Linked DNA regions of Homo sapiens. The protein of the gene in region 3 purifies or fractionates together with the protein of the main gene of each other region. This does not show direct contact. Each region holds a gene or a part of one and is shown on either strand. Other genes may lie near its edges.

The links. Proteins that work in one complex are often made in the same cells at the same time.
Region 1: the proteins of EPG5 (region 3) and P2RY8 purify together in Homo sapiens (co-immunoprecipitation; one large-scale study listed by IntAct). This does not show direct contact.
Region 2: the proteins of EPG5 (region 3) and HTR1E purify together in Homo sapiens (co-immunoprecipitation; one large-scale study listed by IntAct). This does not show direct contact.
Region 4: the proteins of EPG5 (region 3) and VSIG1 purify together in Homo sapiens (co-immunoprecipitation; one large-scale study listed by IntAct). This does not show direct contact.

Annotation. Positions count from the first base shown.
Region 1 is NC_000023.11:1,464,186-1,467,685, forward strand, and holds part of P2RY8 (S-geranylgeranyl-glutathione receptor P2RY8), read right to left. Parts: intron 3,034-3,500; exon of another isoform or gene 2,846-3,033; intron 2,398-2,845; 5' UTR 2,374-2,397; coding exon 1,294-2,373; 3' UTR 1-1,293. UniProt on the Homo sapiens protein: G protein-coupled receptor for S-geranylgeranyl-glutathione (GGG), an endogenous metabolite present in lymphoid tissues.
Region 2 is NC_000006.12:86,940,528-86,944,027, forward strand, and holds part of HTR1E (5-hydroxytryptamine receptor 1E), read left to right. Parts: intron 1-3,500. UniProt on the Homo sapiens protein: G-protein coupled receptor for 5-hydroxytryptamine (serotonin). Also functions as a receptor for various alkaloids and psychoactive substances.
Region 3 is NC_000018.10:45,847,109-45,849,719, forward strand, and holds the end of EPG5 (ectopic P granules protein 5 homolog), read right to left. Parts: 3' UTR 501-2,611; downstream 1-500. UniProt on the Homo sapiens protein: Involved in autophagy. May play a role in a late step of autophagy, such as clearance of autophagosomal cargo.
Region 4 is NC_000023.11:108,048,065-108,051,564, reverse strand, and holds part of VSIG1 (V-set and immunoglobulin domain-containing protein 1 isoform 2 precursor), read right to left. Parts: intron 1-3,500.

The DNA.
Region 1 (3,500 bases), on a different chromosome or scaffold from region 3:
ATGGTCTTTCTCGCCCAAGAGAGCCTGGGATCCAATTCCACGTGATGTCCCAGCACCCCTGGAGAGTCAGAGCTCTTCTTTGCGCTAAACCAGCTCAGGTGTTGGGGCTGGTGCAGGCACATGCCGTGTAGAAGAAGACAGACAAAGACCCAGCCTGCTCACCACCCACACAGCAGGGAGGGGGCTCAGCGGCTGACACCCCTGTAGGTTCCTGGGGTCCACACCTGCATCTGCTGCTTGGTCTCCAAACGGTCTCATGGGTCAGGCCAGTTGCCTGCTTCCTGGACTCCAGATGGACTTGCCATGGCTGAGGCTCTCCATGGGGTAAAAGGACGCGGAGAATGGGCAGGAGGTGGGGAACTCCCGAATCAAGCTGCACCCTTGTGTTGGGATGGGCTGGACCCCATCTCACGGAGCCTCCTTTCCGCACCTGGGCCTCCCGTGGTCCTTGTCCTGAGTCAGGGAAGCCTGAGTGTGTTCCAGGGGCCTGATGGGACCTCCTTCTCTATCAGGGACTCACAGAAGCAGAATAGGGGTGGGGTCCCACCAAGCCAGGCCAGAACAAATGTGCCAAAAATCACCTTGGTCAGCAACAGGGTGGGGTGTGTGTGTGGGGGGAAGTGGGCACGGAGAGTAGCTGACTTGCAGGAGCCCCAGGCGCTCCTCTGAAAGAAGAATTCCAACCACAGCAACCACAGTGCCCCTGAGTGAAATAAACAGAAATTTCGGCGTGCACCGGGCTACGGAGACCAGAACCCCTGGAGGAGAATGGAGAAGGCCAGAACCACAACTAAGGGACGATGTCAGCAGGGAGAAGAGCTGGGAATGGGGCTCGCAGTTCGCCCACGGAGGATATCCAGAAACCGAGTCGGGTAGGCGGTGGGGCTGGTTGAATATCCACCCTCGGGTATGGACAGGTGTGAGGAGTGTCTAAGGAGCTCGGGGGTGACAGCCCAGCTCTACTAAAAAAAATACAAAAATTAGCCGGGCGTGGTGACACAAGCTGTCCCCTGACACAGAGAGGCAGAGGCACCCTCTGCAGGATAACAAGCACCCTGTGCGCTGCTGGGCTTTGCTTGTTTCTCTACCCTGAGTGAAGCCTGGAGACCCTTCCTCACCGGTGCCTCTGCAGTGCCTGGGAGGAATAAAGCCTGGAGACCCTTCCCCACCGGGCCTCTGCAGTGCCTGGGAGCAACGCAGCTGTTCTCCCTGAACCTCTGGCACCGTGGCCTCTCCATGCGCCCCTGGATCTCCAAGCTGCGCCCCCGGCTCTCCAAGCTGCGCCCCCGGGACTCAGAACACACTCTCCTGCCTCTGGAGGCCGGGCCTGGTGGCTCCCTCCATCCCTTCAGGGTGCGCACCGGCCTCGGAGCGCACGGACGTGGTCCTGGCGGAGAAGAGGCTCTCGCGGCGCGTGTCCAGGGTGTCTCTGGGCACCCGGCGGCAGCCCAAATATTCCCGCAGGCGCAGCTGGAATTCCCGGGACGCAAAGTAATAAACAAACGGGTCCAGACAGTTGTTGAGGCAGCTGAGACACAGCGTGAGCTTGTACACGTGGTAGTAGCTCTTGCCGTAGAACAGGCGGCTCACGATGTGCGCCAGGAGCACGAAGTTGTTGGGGGCGAAGCAGGTGACAAAGGCCAGCAAGACCACCGCGGCCAGGCCCACCGCGCGCCTCCGCTGCTCCCGGCCGTGCGCCTCCTCCGTGCGCAACAGCTTGAGGATGGTGGCCGTGTAACAAGCCACGGTGATCACGAACGGGATGAGGAACAGCAGGATGAAGATGGTGAAGAGGAACACGGCCCACATGGCCACGCTGGGGAGCATCGTCCACTTGAGGACGTCGAAGCAGGTGATGATGCCCAGGGCGTGCACCGGGTAGGTGAGATCGGTGCGCGCCAGCGGGGACAGGGCGGTCAGGAGCAGCAGCCAGGTCCCTGCACACGCGGCCACCGCGTAACGACGGCGGCGCCAGCGCTTGGAGCTGAGCGGGTACAGGACCCCCAGGAAGCGCTCCACGCTGATACAGGTCATGGTGAGGATGCTGGAATACATGTTTGCGTAAAAGGCCACGGTCACCACGTTGCAAAGCAGCACCCCGAATACCCAGTGGTGGCGGTTGCAATGGTAGTAGATTTGGAAAGGCAACACGCTGGCCAGCATCAGGTCCGTGACGCTCAGGTTGATCATGAAGATGACCGACGGGGATCTGGGCCCCATGCGCCGGCACAGCACCCACAGAGAGAAGAGGTTGCCCGGGATGCTGACCGCCGCCACCAGCGAGTACACCACGGGCAGGGCCACCGCGATCGCCGGGTTCCGCAGCATCTGCAGCGTCGCGTTGTCCGGGCCGGTGCTGTTCGGGACCTGCATCCTGGAGGGGTCCTCGCCCGGGCTCTGCAAGGGAAGGAGGGAAGGGTGTACGGGTCAGGGGCGCAGGTAAAGAGGCGGCTGCCGGGAGGGCTCCTGAGCGCCGCTCCCCGGGGACCAAGGCGGGGGAGATGCTTTAGCAGGGCCTGCTGTCTCCTCCCTCCCTCCCTCCCTTAGTTCCTCCTTCCCTCTCCTCCTTCCTTCCCTCCCTCTCTGCCTCCTTTCTTCACCCTGTGTCATTCTTTTCTTCTTTCCTGTCTTCTCCCCTTTCTTCTTCCTTCCTCCTCTCTCCTTCCTTCTCTTCTTCCCTCCTTCCTTCCTTCCTTCCTTCCTTCCCGCCCTCCCTCCCTCCCGTCCTTCCTTGGATCAGGGAGGTCATTGGAGACCTCGGCCCACGTCAGAGGCTGAGACTCTTAGATGATCCACAGTGGGGCTGTGGCTCCCCTGGGCAGGTTGAATGCATTGTCATACAAACCTCAAGACTCAGTGTCCCCCGTGGACGGAAACCACAAAGCCACCGTCAGCCCCCAGGGTGGTCTTAATGGGAATTCTTGACACCCTGGCAGTATTAGTCTGGGTATGAGTCCTCTCATCTCAGGGGCATCCACCCACAAAGTGTCTATCAGCAGAAAACACACACTCCGAGTGCCAGGAGACCAACCCGCAGCCTCCAAAGTCTTTCCAGCTTTTAACACCCGCGTCAACCCACGGCTCCTCCCTGCTCTTTCTTCCTCCAGAGGAGACCTGCGACTTCTTACCAACTGCTCTACAAACAGCTTCCTCAAGCTGGCTTTAAAATGGCCCGGAGTTTTCGTTTCAGTTTCAGGGAGAAGTTTTCTGACCCGCCGGTCCGTGCCCAGGTGTGAAACCTACAGTTATGCACGAGTCAGCACCGCTCCCCACGGCCAGCTGGGCACCTCCAGCCACCTATGGCTTCAGGAGGAAAAGCAGACCCTTCCTTCTTTGGGTTCCGCTTGGTGTGGCCGTGGGGGACGTCTGGAAGGAGAGACGCTTTATCCATGAGCTGGTGATGAAAAAGTGTCTGTCAAAGGGACACTACTTTTATTTTGAGAATGTAAAGTGGACAGAGCTGGAAACAGGGGTGCCCTGGAATTGTTCTTTTGTTTGTT
Region 2 (3,500 bases), on a different chromosome or scaffold from region 3:
CTTGTCTCAAAAAAAGAAAAGAAAAGAAAGAAAAAGAAAGTAGGTCTCTTTGCAGAAAGCCTCAGGCCCTGAACTTTTGTGTCATCTTCTCATTACTCAAGTCTAATTCCCTACATCTCACTTTTACACACAGATCATTTTTTTCATGTTTGTTTTGATTGCCCACCCTGGAATTCTATTTCTGCACTACCCTTTAAAAGTGAAAGATCAAATCTAACGCTCTAATGTGGGAAAGCATTCCCTCTATTTCTACAAGCTTATTTACACAAAAAAATAAGCTTGAGACTGATCAAAAGCTGAATTTCTACCAAATAGGAACTTACTTTTTATGCCGTAAATTATCAAGGCCATCTCAAGGCAGAGGTGAGTTTAGCATCTCATGCTTTATGCTCCTTTCTTCTGCACCTACCAGATTTTTATTACATGTGAAATTATATGAACATAAACCCCAGGGAAACATTGAAGATGAGTGTGCCGTCACAAGTGACGAGGGGACAGATGAACAGGGAAGAGAAATGGGGCAGCAGCACTTTAGAGTGACTTACTTCTCTCTTGTTTTCTCCTCCCTGAATCATTTTCTAGAACCAGTATTGTGGCCCCTAAAATTTGGGGCTTAGGTCAGTCAACTTACCAAAGTTCATCTTCCTGGTGATGAAAGGACTTTCATCAAAATCCCAGCTACTTTTTATTCGTTCCCACATTTTGTGGATTAAGAAACTGAGAACCAGAATTTATAGAGATCACTCAATCAATTGGCATATTCCCGGATCACAACAAATTGATAAAATTCTTGAGAACCCTCTTTCTAATACAGATTGACTATAATTTTGTCTTTCATTTTTAGTTCTCTTATTTTGTCTCATGCACTGTGGATTATCTGGTTTACTGCAGTCCTTACCTGAATAGATGTCAGTGTTTTGATCCCATTGTTGTATTCCCCTAAAACACGTCAAATGAAAAACTGGACACTTTAATAGGTTTATTGTTAGCACTCTCTCATGCTGATCAATTCTCAACACATGCAGTTGTAGGATTAGGAAGACAAAATCCTTTAGAAGAAGCTATGAAACCTAATCCTTCTGCATCTGGATCATTTTAAACTACAAGTTGTAAGAGGAATGAGCATCTCTGGATTCTAGTTATCAGTGCAGACCAGATGGAAGGTCTTTATGAAATCTGGTATGAGAAGGAAAGCATTTTATAGCAAGAAGAAAATATTTTGAGAAATAGCTACCAGCAGCAGCAGCTAGCAGTTCTAAAACTCTCAGATCCTCCTAATGACCCCATTAGGGAGGGAGGAAGGGAGCAAGGAAGGAAGGAATGAAGGAAGGAAAGAAGAAAGGAAGGAAGGAAGGAAGGAAGGGAAGGAGGGAAGGAGGGAAGTGTTATAAATATTGGTCAGGGAAAAGTTTTATTATTAATGACAGATTAAATAATTAGCTACTAGGAAAATTCAAGGGGATACATAAAAATGCCATTAGAAAGAATAAGAGAACCCAGTAAGGTGGCTAGCTACAATAGCTTGCCTGGTTAGCGACAATATAATCATAGGGATTTATATTACGCTTGTACACTGTTGGGCAGAAAACATGCCTGAGAGGTATAAAAGATGCTGTTAGCATCCAAGAAAAATGGGAAAGGAAAGCCCACCTCATCTGAGGAAGATGGAGGAAGAAGAACCTACAGAAAAGGATTCCACATTCCAAACTCATCCCTCTGAATTCAGTAATATTTATCCTTATATGATTTCTGACAGTGTAGTTTGTCATTGTAATTAATTCTTTCCTGTAAGTAAACAAGAATTGTATACTTACTTAAGTACCTTACATTTTAAACTTTATTACATAGTCCTAATTTTAATGTTGAACTCTGCCCTAGTCAAGGAAGTATTTGTTACCTAACACAAGAATTTGATATACAGTCATCCATAAACACTATCCTACCATATAGTTCATCATAATTTAACATTCAAAGAAAGAAGCATGATTTCCTCTTTTATTATGCTTTCATTTGAGCCATTTTAACTTTCTTACCATTCTTTCCTTCTGAACCTAATTCAATTCCTTACACAATGCTCTAAAAAATCAAGGATTAAATATGTAACTTAATTTATAATTAGCAAATACATCATTTACAAGATGCATTCATATTGGCAAGCATATTTTATTTCATAGATTGTAAACTGGTAAAACAATGTAATCTCCTCACCCTCTCTGCAATACAGTAAGCCTGTTTCTAAGACCATCAAGGTTTTACTTTATGTCCGAGGCATTGGAGAACCAGACTGTACTGACCCCAGGGTTTGGTGACTTACATATAAATGAAGCATCTTACCAAGAAGGGATGAAAAATGACTTTAGAGGAAGCAAAAGTCTCAAAGCTCACAAGACTTGATTACTTTCAGCTTGGTGACAGAGGCAATGCTCTTGTGATGCAGATGGAGTAATTTCTCCAGCACAAAAGATGTCCAGCCGGGTCCCATTGGCTTTGAGATAATCTCTCACATTGCATTAAGTGTACTGAGTACCCTTTCTCAGACTTATGTACCATTAGCATGCATTTAATTAACAGTTAATGATTACATAGTATTGTTACTATTACCACATAGTCCTGTTATATTAAAATACATGAAATTTGTAGCTATGTTTTGCCTGTTTAGTAAAATGAGTCTGAATCTAAGGGTGAGAGGGTCTACACACAGCCAAGAGGATGGGGTATTAACCCAGGCCTGTGTGAAGATATTTGCATCTCATGGAATGCTCTCCAGAGAACAAACTGACCTACCCTGTGCATGTCAGCTAAGCTCCCGCCAGCTTCCTCAGGGCTTGCTGAATGTACAGTGAGTGCCACAGTGCCAGCGTGGCAGTGAAGCACAGGCCCAACTCTACGGACCTGGGGTCAGAAGGCCTGGGTTAATACCCCATTCTCTTGGCTGTATGAGCTGCATGGTCTGTCATCGTTACAATGGGGACAATAATACATGCCCTGTCTACCTCAGCCTCCTTTCAGGGAAGTTTCTCAAAACAGAATATGCTATTGTGATTCATTGTCACCTGTGATGTCAAACTGCACCTTGTGTTATACTACTAGGGGGTAACACAGCATGGGGCTCAAGCCCAAGCTCTCGAGTCCAGAAAGCCAGGTTCATATCCCAGCTCTGCCATTCATTAACTGCTTTCACATCTCTAAACCTCAGTTTCCTCATTTGTTGGGGCTCACATAACAGTACTATGTCATAGGGCTATTTATGAGGATTAAATGTGTGTATTCATTATTGCTAAATAATAAATTACCCCAAAACCTAATGGCTTAAAGCAACAGATTTTTATTATCTCTATGATCATAGTTCCATGGGTTGGGAATCTGGGTATGGCTTAGCTAGGTCCTCTGGCTCAGGTCTGTCACTCACAGGCTGCAAAGTTTCAGCCGAGACTGCAGACATCTCAAGGCTCAACTGGGGAAAGGTAACGCTTCCAAGCTCGCTCACGTGGCTGTTGACA
Region 3 (2,611 bases):
GTCCCTAAGGAATCCCAAATTGGTTTAATTCTCAAATGGAATGTGCAGACCCTTCTCCACACCTTGGCCCATTCAAAGTGCATCTTACAAATGTGAGTGAAAAATAACACTAAAGAGAACTCCCTGGGCATCCCACCACTGAAGGTGGATTTCCCCAGCAGACCATGACCAAGCTGGGGTTACACTGCCAGAAGCACCCCCACTCCCACCTCATTTGTGCAATTTTTATGGCCCTGCTCTTACCAAGCTCAAGGCCACATCACAGACCCTCCTGACCTCTCTGAGATCAGCAGGTGGCCTCCTGTCCCTGCCAATTCTGAAATTCTCAAGTTAAAACTTCTCTTTGAAATTAGAGGCCTCGCCCATCGTGGTGAAAGGTCACAAAATAACTATTCTATCCATTACGAAGTTTCTCATATAAAATTTTTCTTATTGTGGTTTAATGTATGAAAAGACTGTCAACCAACTTGCAGGAAACAATGAGACAGGCCCGCCATGTGTAAATTAAATTCGAATCTAGTTTATTTGCAGAATTTTACTTAACCAGTTGTCATTTCTTCCTGTTTCTCACCATTATATAAAAACTTACCCTTTGTACAAGTATGAAAAATGTGGAACAATGAATAAGTAGTGAATATTGCACATTTAATGTCCAAAATAAAGTTGTGGTTTTTAAAGGTCACACTAGATATGTGGGAAGAAAACGAGTTGAACACACTTAAGTATGTGTCTCCACATAAGTGATTTTAAACTATTGAAAGAAAAATAAATTCTATCAGTGCTCAATGAGAGACAGTACATCTGTACATTAAAAAATAAAAGTTATAATCAACAACATTCCTTCGCAATTTCATTATCCCAAAAGAGGATCAGTAGTATAATTATTTTTTTTTCAAGTTATTTTCATCAGGAATCAGGAACCTACCAGAGTGAAGGAAACCTCAAATACAGCTACTCCTGGACACTGATGCCCGAGGCATGCTGTGGAAACCGGACCAAAATGAAGTCTGCGTTAGTAAGTCTAGAACTTTACCCAGCACAACCCAGACACAAATGGAAGATGGTAGAAGGGGATACTTTCTTTTAATCAACACACTTATTTCCCAACATTATATTCTCCATTTTGCTTAATAAGACAAAGTTAACTGATCAGAAAAATGATCAGCTACTATCTCAAAATGAGCTGTACAGTTGGCCCAAAATGAAGAGCAGGCAGTAGTAGAGGATTAAGGGCAAAGTGCCTTGTTGTTAGGCCTGTCATGAAGATGTGGGGTGAGATCTGTCTTGGGCAACAACTGATATTAAGCTGAGGTCTGCAGTCTCAACTTGCCACTAGCTTAATGTGCCTCCCATGGGGCACAGCTACTGAAAGCTGATGCTGCCCAAGCATTTAGGGAGATAATTATGCCACTTGGACCACACTGGTGCGACTCTAACCCCAGGGCTGGGGCCAGAATGAGGTAAAGGAGGCACCACGGGGGTAAACCCAAGGAAGCACTCTCTTGGCACCTGCAAGCAAGCACCAACTTAAATGTATGCCCCAGGTGCCTCATTTGTCTCACCCTAGCCCTGGCCCTGCTAATCCGGGGCACACCCCTTTTAGGATAACACGGACTAATTTGGACACTTTCCCCAAACCGTAGCCCAGTTAGACATGATGGTGGAAAAGGTCTAACTAAAGACATTGCAGGGGAGATGGGCGCGGTGGCTCACGCCTGTAATCCCAGCACTCTGGGAGGCCGGGGCGGGCGGACCACAAGGTCAGGAGTTTGAAACCAGCTTGTCTCAATGGCTGGGTGAAACCCTGTCTCTACTAAAAAATACAAAAATTAGCCGGGCGTGGTGGCATGCACCTGTAGTCCTGGCTCCTTGGGAGGCTGAGGCAGAATAGCTTGAACCCAGGAGGCGGAGGTTGCAGTGAGCCGAGACCATGCCATTGCACTCCAGCCTGGGTGACAGATGAGACTCGTCTCAAAAAAAAAAAAAAAAAAAAGACATTGGGGGATTTAGCTTGGATTTAGCCTAAGAGGTGAGGGGTGGGGTGGAAGTGGTGTTAGACATGTGATGAAAACTGAAAATATCTAAAGGTCTGCCTCAAGGAGGGGCAAGTGAACAGCCCCAGCCTGAACTGCTCTGGACAGAACCACGACCAATAGGCAACGTAGAAACATCTTGGTTCAATAGAAAGCAGAACTACAGAGCCTGCGGATGGCAGCCTAGGCCTGCCCATCACAGGCTGGACCACCAGGCACTGGACAGGGGCAGAGGAGAGGCAGGAGGATCCCTGCAGAGTGAGAGGGGCACTAGATGAACGTGAATGACCCTTCTGACTGTAAAAGTCTACGATTCCAGGACATTTGCTTCCTGCTCCAGAAGAAAGAATTTCAGGAATAAAAACTCAGTGAAAAAGTATATATCACCTTCATTTGAAAGGAACGAGGACATGAACACTCTTGGCTTGTATGACATGTACACACTGATTTTGATGATGAACTGAGAGGAACCAGGAGGCCGTCACTTGGTTGAAAGGAAGTTAGGCTGGTCTATGGGTTTTCATTTTCTGGACTAGGCTTTCCCCAACCTCAAAGAAGTGAGAGACGCAGGCACACAA
Region 4 (3,500 bases), on a different chromosome or scaffold from region 3:
AGGAAACTCATATTTACATTTTTTATTTTTGCAGTCAGTCACATTATTTATGCTTCACATGCAAGCAGGTGTTGGCTTACTTTTGTGGTCTGTTGTTCTAACAGCAGTTTAATTTTCAGTATTGTTTTGCTCTGTTTGGTTTATCGGATATCACTGAGGCTGACATTTGTCCCAGATCATATCGCCTGAAGGAGCAGAAAGGTTTCCCTAGGTCAGGCTTCCAGGTGCCTCTCAGTTGGGGTAGGTATGGTGGGACACTTCTACTGGCGCCCTGCACTGTTGGTGTCTCTATGGGTAGGAGAGGACAGTCATACACCCACTGAGACAGAGCCTTCCCAGACTGGGCCGCTTGCCATCACTTTATGCCTCGTGTCTGTTCTACCCTCCCACCTCGATATCTCTAGGTGAAAGTGGGACATCTCAGGCCTGGGGAGAAGGCAAATGCTTCTTTTGTCCACTGTTGTTGGTGGGGTTTCTGAAGATCCCCCCTTACCTGTGGTGTTGGGCCTACCTGATGTTGTCAGAGGGACTCTGAGGGAGGAGTAAGCTTACCTGGGCTGCCCTCTGTTGTTCAGTTGGGTATCAGGAATGGCCAGGACTAGGTTTCTTTCTTCTGCTGGGTGGGAAACATAGGATACCCTTGCTCTTTGTTTTTCCCTGGGTCTCAAACCAGTTTGCCTTCTCCTTACAACCTTCCAGAGTTCTACCCTGGTTGTCTCTTGCATTATTTCCAGGGTTTATACTTGTGCTTAGCAGGGAGGAACAATGAAAAACAGGTCTGTACTACATGTCCAGACCAGAAATCTCCCTCAGTTTTTAAGAGTGTAAAATTGTCCTGAGACCACAAATTTTGAGAACTGTTGGCCTTACAGAAAGATGAAGTAATTAAGCTCCCCATAGGATTTGGAGGCCCACCGAAGGGCACCCTACCCAAATCCAGCCTGCCACTACACTAAAATTCTCAGTTCTATATGAGCACTTTCCAAAGGGCTATTTTAGGTGATGGCACTTTGGGGAGCACTATACAGTCACTGTCTTATCTTATTAACTGGTTGCTATGCATTGCATTGTCGAAGACTATAAAAGTTCTCCAGGATGGGTCACGGGATTGGCAGGCAAGCACTGGAAGAGAAAGTCAAGTTCAAGAGACGCTCTCTATGCTGTCCTAGTTGCCTGCAGGGTAACAGAGGGTGTTGGAGGGTTGAGGGTGAAGGGATGAGGATACAGAAATTATGAAAGATTCAGAGGAAATTGCATAGAGGGACTAATTCCTGTCCATCTTCCCAATTTTGCATACCCAAAGACTTATTTATTTCATATTTTTCTTACTTAATGACAGCAGTCAGACAAAAAGAACTTAAAGGATTGACAAACACTTTTAAAAAGTAAAAGAAAAAAAATCGTTGTACTGATTACTCTTGGTTTCATGGATTCAATATCTGTGTTCTCTGTCACAGCCAGGTCACCTGGTCCAGCTGCTTTCCTGCCAGAAGCTGGCTGTTTACATGGCAACCAATGCACTGATAAATTAAGAAAAGTGCCTGAATGCAAACAAAAATGCAGCACTTTTTAACTCCATACAGTTTCCCTCTTCCCAATATTCTCCTCCCCATGCTTTCCTGGTTTCCATAATGCCTCCTCCAAAAAGGAAATTGGCTTTCAGAAAGCAGCTAATCTTTCCAACAAAAACTTCACTGGAGAAAGATGGTTCCCTCCCACCCTCAAAGAGCCCATTTCATTTCTCCTGGAAGTTAGCCACATCTCTGGCCGTGCTTAAATGATGACTTCCAAATGTCTTTAAAGTGTCCAAAATAAAAAGGATAAAACTGGGGTTTTGGTAGCCCTTAAAGTTCCCAGACTTATTCCCTAAAAACAGAGATTTTAGAGATATTATTTGGCCATAATTTTTGTTCTCTAGTTTGGGACCCAGTATCTGTTACGAGATTGGTTAAGGGTGAGAATTTATGAACAGATAAGGCAAAACAATAAACAAAACCCCACAAACCCCCTTTGAAGACCACTCTTGGAAAAAGTGTTTGATGGCAGAGTACACACAGTACTCACACAAGTCAAGCCATGGAAGAGGCTGTGGAGCCTAGCAACAAATATCAATTGAGCACCCATTTTGTGCCACAAACAGTGCTGAACACTGGGGAAACAAGAATGAACATGACAGACACAATCTCTGCCATCCCTCAGTGCAGCAGGAAGCCATTTATAGCACAGATGAGAATAGAGGTGAATGAAAATCAAGGATTTGGAAAATATAAATCTGATTCAAACATTTCTAACATTTTAAATATAGAAGATATATAAATGTGTAACTAATTAGAAATCTGCAAAAGTTTAATAATATCACCTTGGAATTAGGATGGTAATTTCAAATTTTAAAGTGAGACAATATTTTTTGAGGTACTACACATTGTCATGTAAATAAGTAACAGTTGGCAAAGCAAAACCTCCAGGCCATTTTATTGCCCAGATTCCCAATTCTTAGCACCATAACCAATTAAATTCTGAAGAAAAGATGTTTTTCAGACATTGTCCAACCATGATATAGTGATGATATGCTTCAGAGCTAAAAGTTATATATTTCCAGATGAGCCTTTTTAAAATGTCACATCATTCAATTAGTGCACATTACTTAAAACCTCTGAGCTCACCCTTACAGTGCTGTCCAACAGAACTTCCTGTGATGATGGAAATGTTCTATCTCTGCGCCATCCAGTTCAGTAGCCCAAATAGAATTATCAAACACTTGAAATGTGGCTAGTGAAACTGAGGAACTGACTTTATAATTTTCATTAATCTGAAGTGATTTAAATTTCAATAGCCACATGTAGACAATGGGCAGTGCAAACTTAGTCCTAAAGTGGAGGTGATTCTCTGAGTGTCAGGGAAAAAAGTTCCCTTCCTTTGGATTAAGTCATTCTAAGTTGAGAAATTATTTAAAAATTGAATAAGTCAGAAAAATCTCTACATCAATAGGACTGTGAATAAATAGCAAAGTAAAGATTAGTATCTGATTTAAACAAAACCCAAGAACGCAATGTCCCTCTCTGACTTGACCAAATTTAAAAACAAAACAAAAATGCATATGTGGTTGAAATATGTGTAATCTCTTTTAAAAACCAGTGCTTACCTGCACGTTGTGCACATGTATCCTAAAACTTAAAGTATAATAATAATTAAAAAAGTGCTTATTATTAAAGAAAAATAATCCAAGATGTACACACTTAATCAACATTTAAAAATATTTTTAGGCTGGGCGCAGTGGCTCACGCCTGTAATCCCAACACTTTGGGAGGCTGAGGTGGGCGGGTCGCCTGAGGTTGGGAGTTCAAGACCAGCCTGACCAACATGGAGAAACCCTGTCTCTACCAAAAATACAAAATTAGCCGGGCGTGGTGGTGCATGCCTGTAATCCCAGCTACTCAGGAGGCTGAGGCAGTAGAATCACTTGAACCCGGAAGGCGGAAGTTGCGGTGGGCCGAGATCGT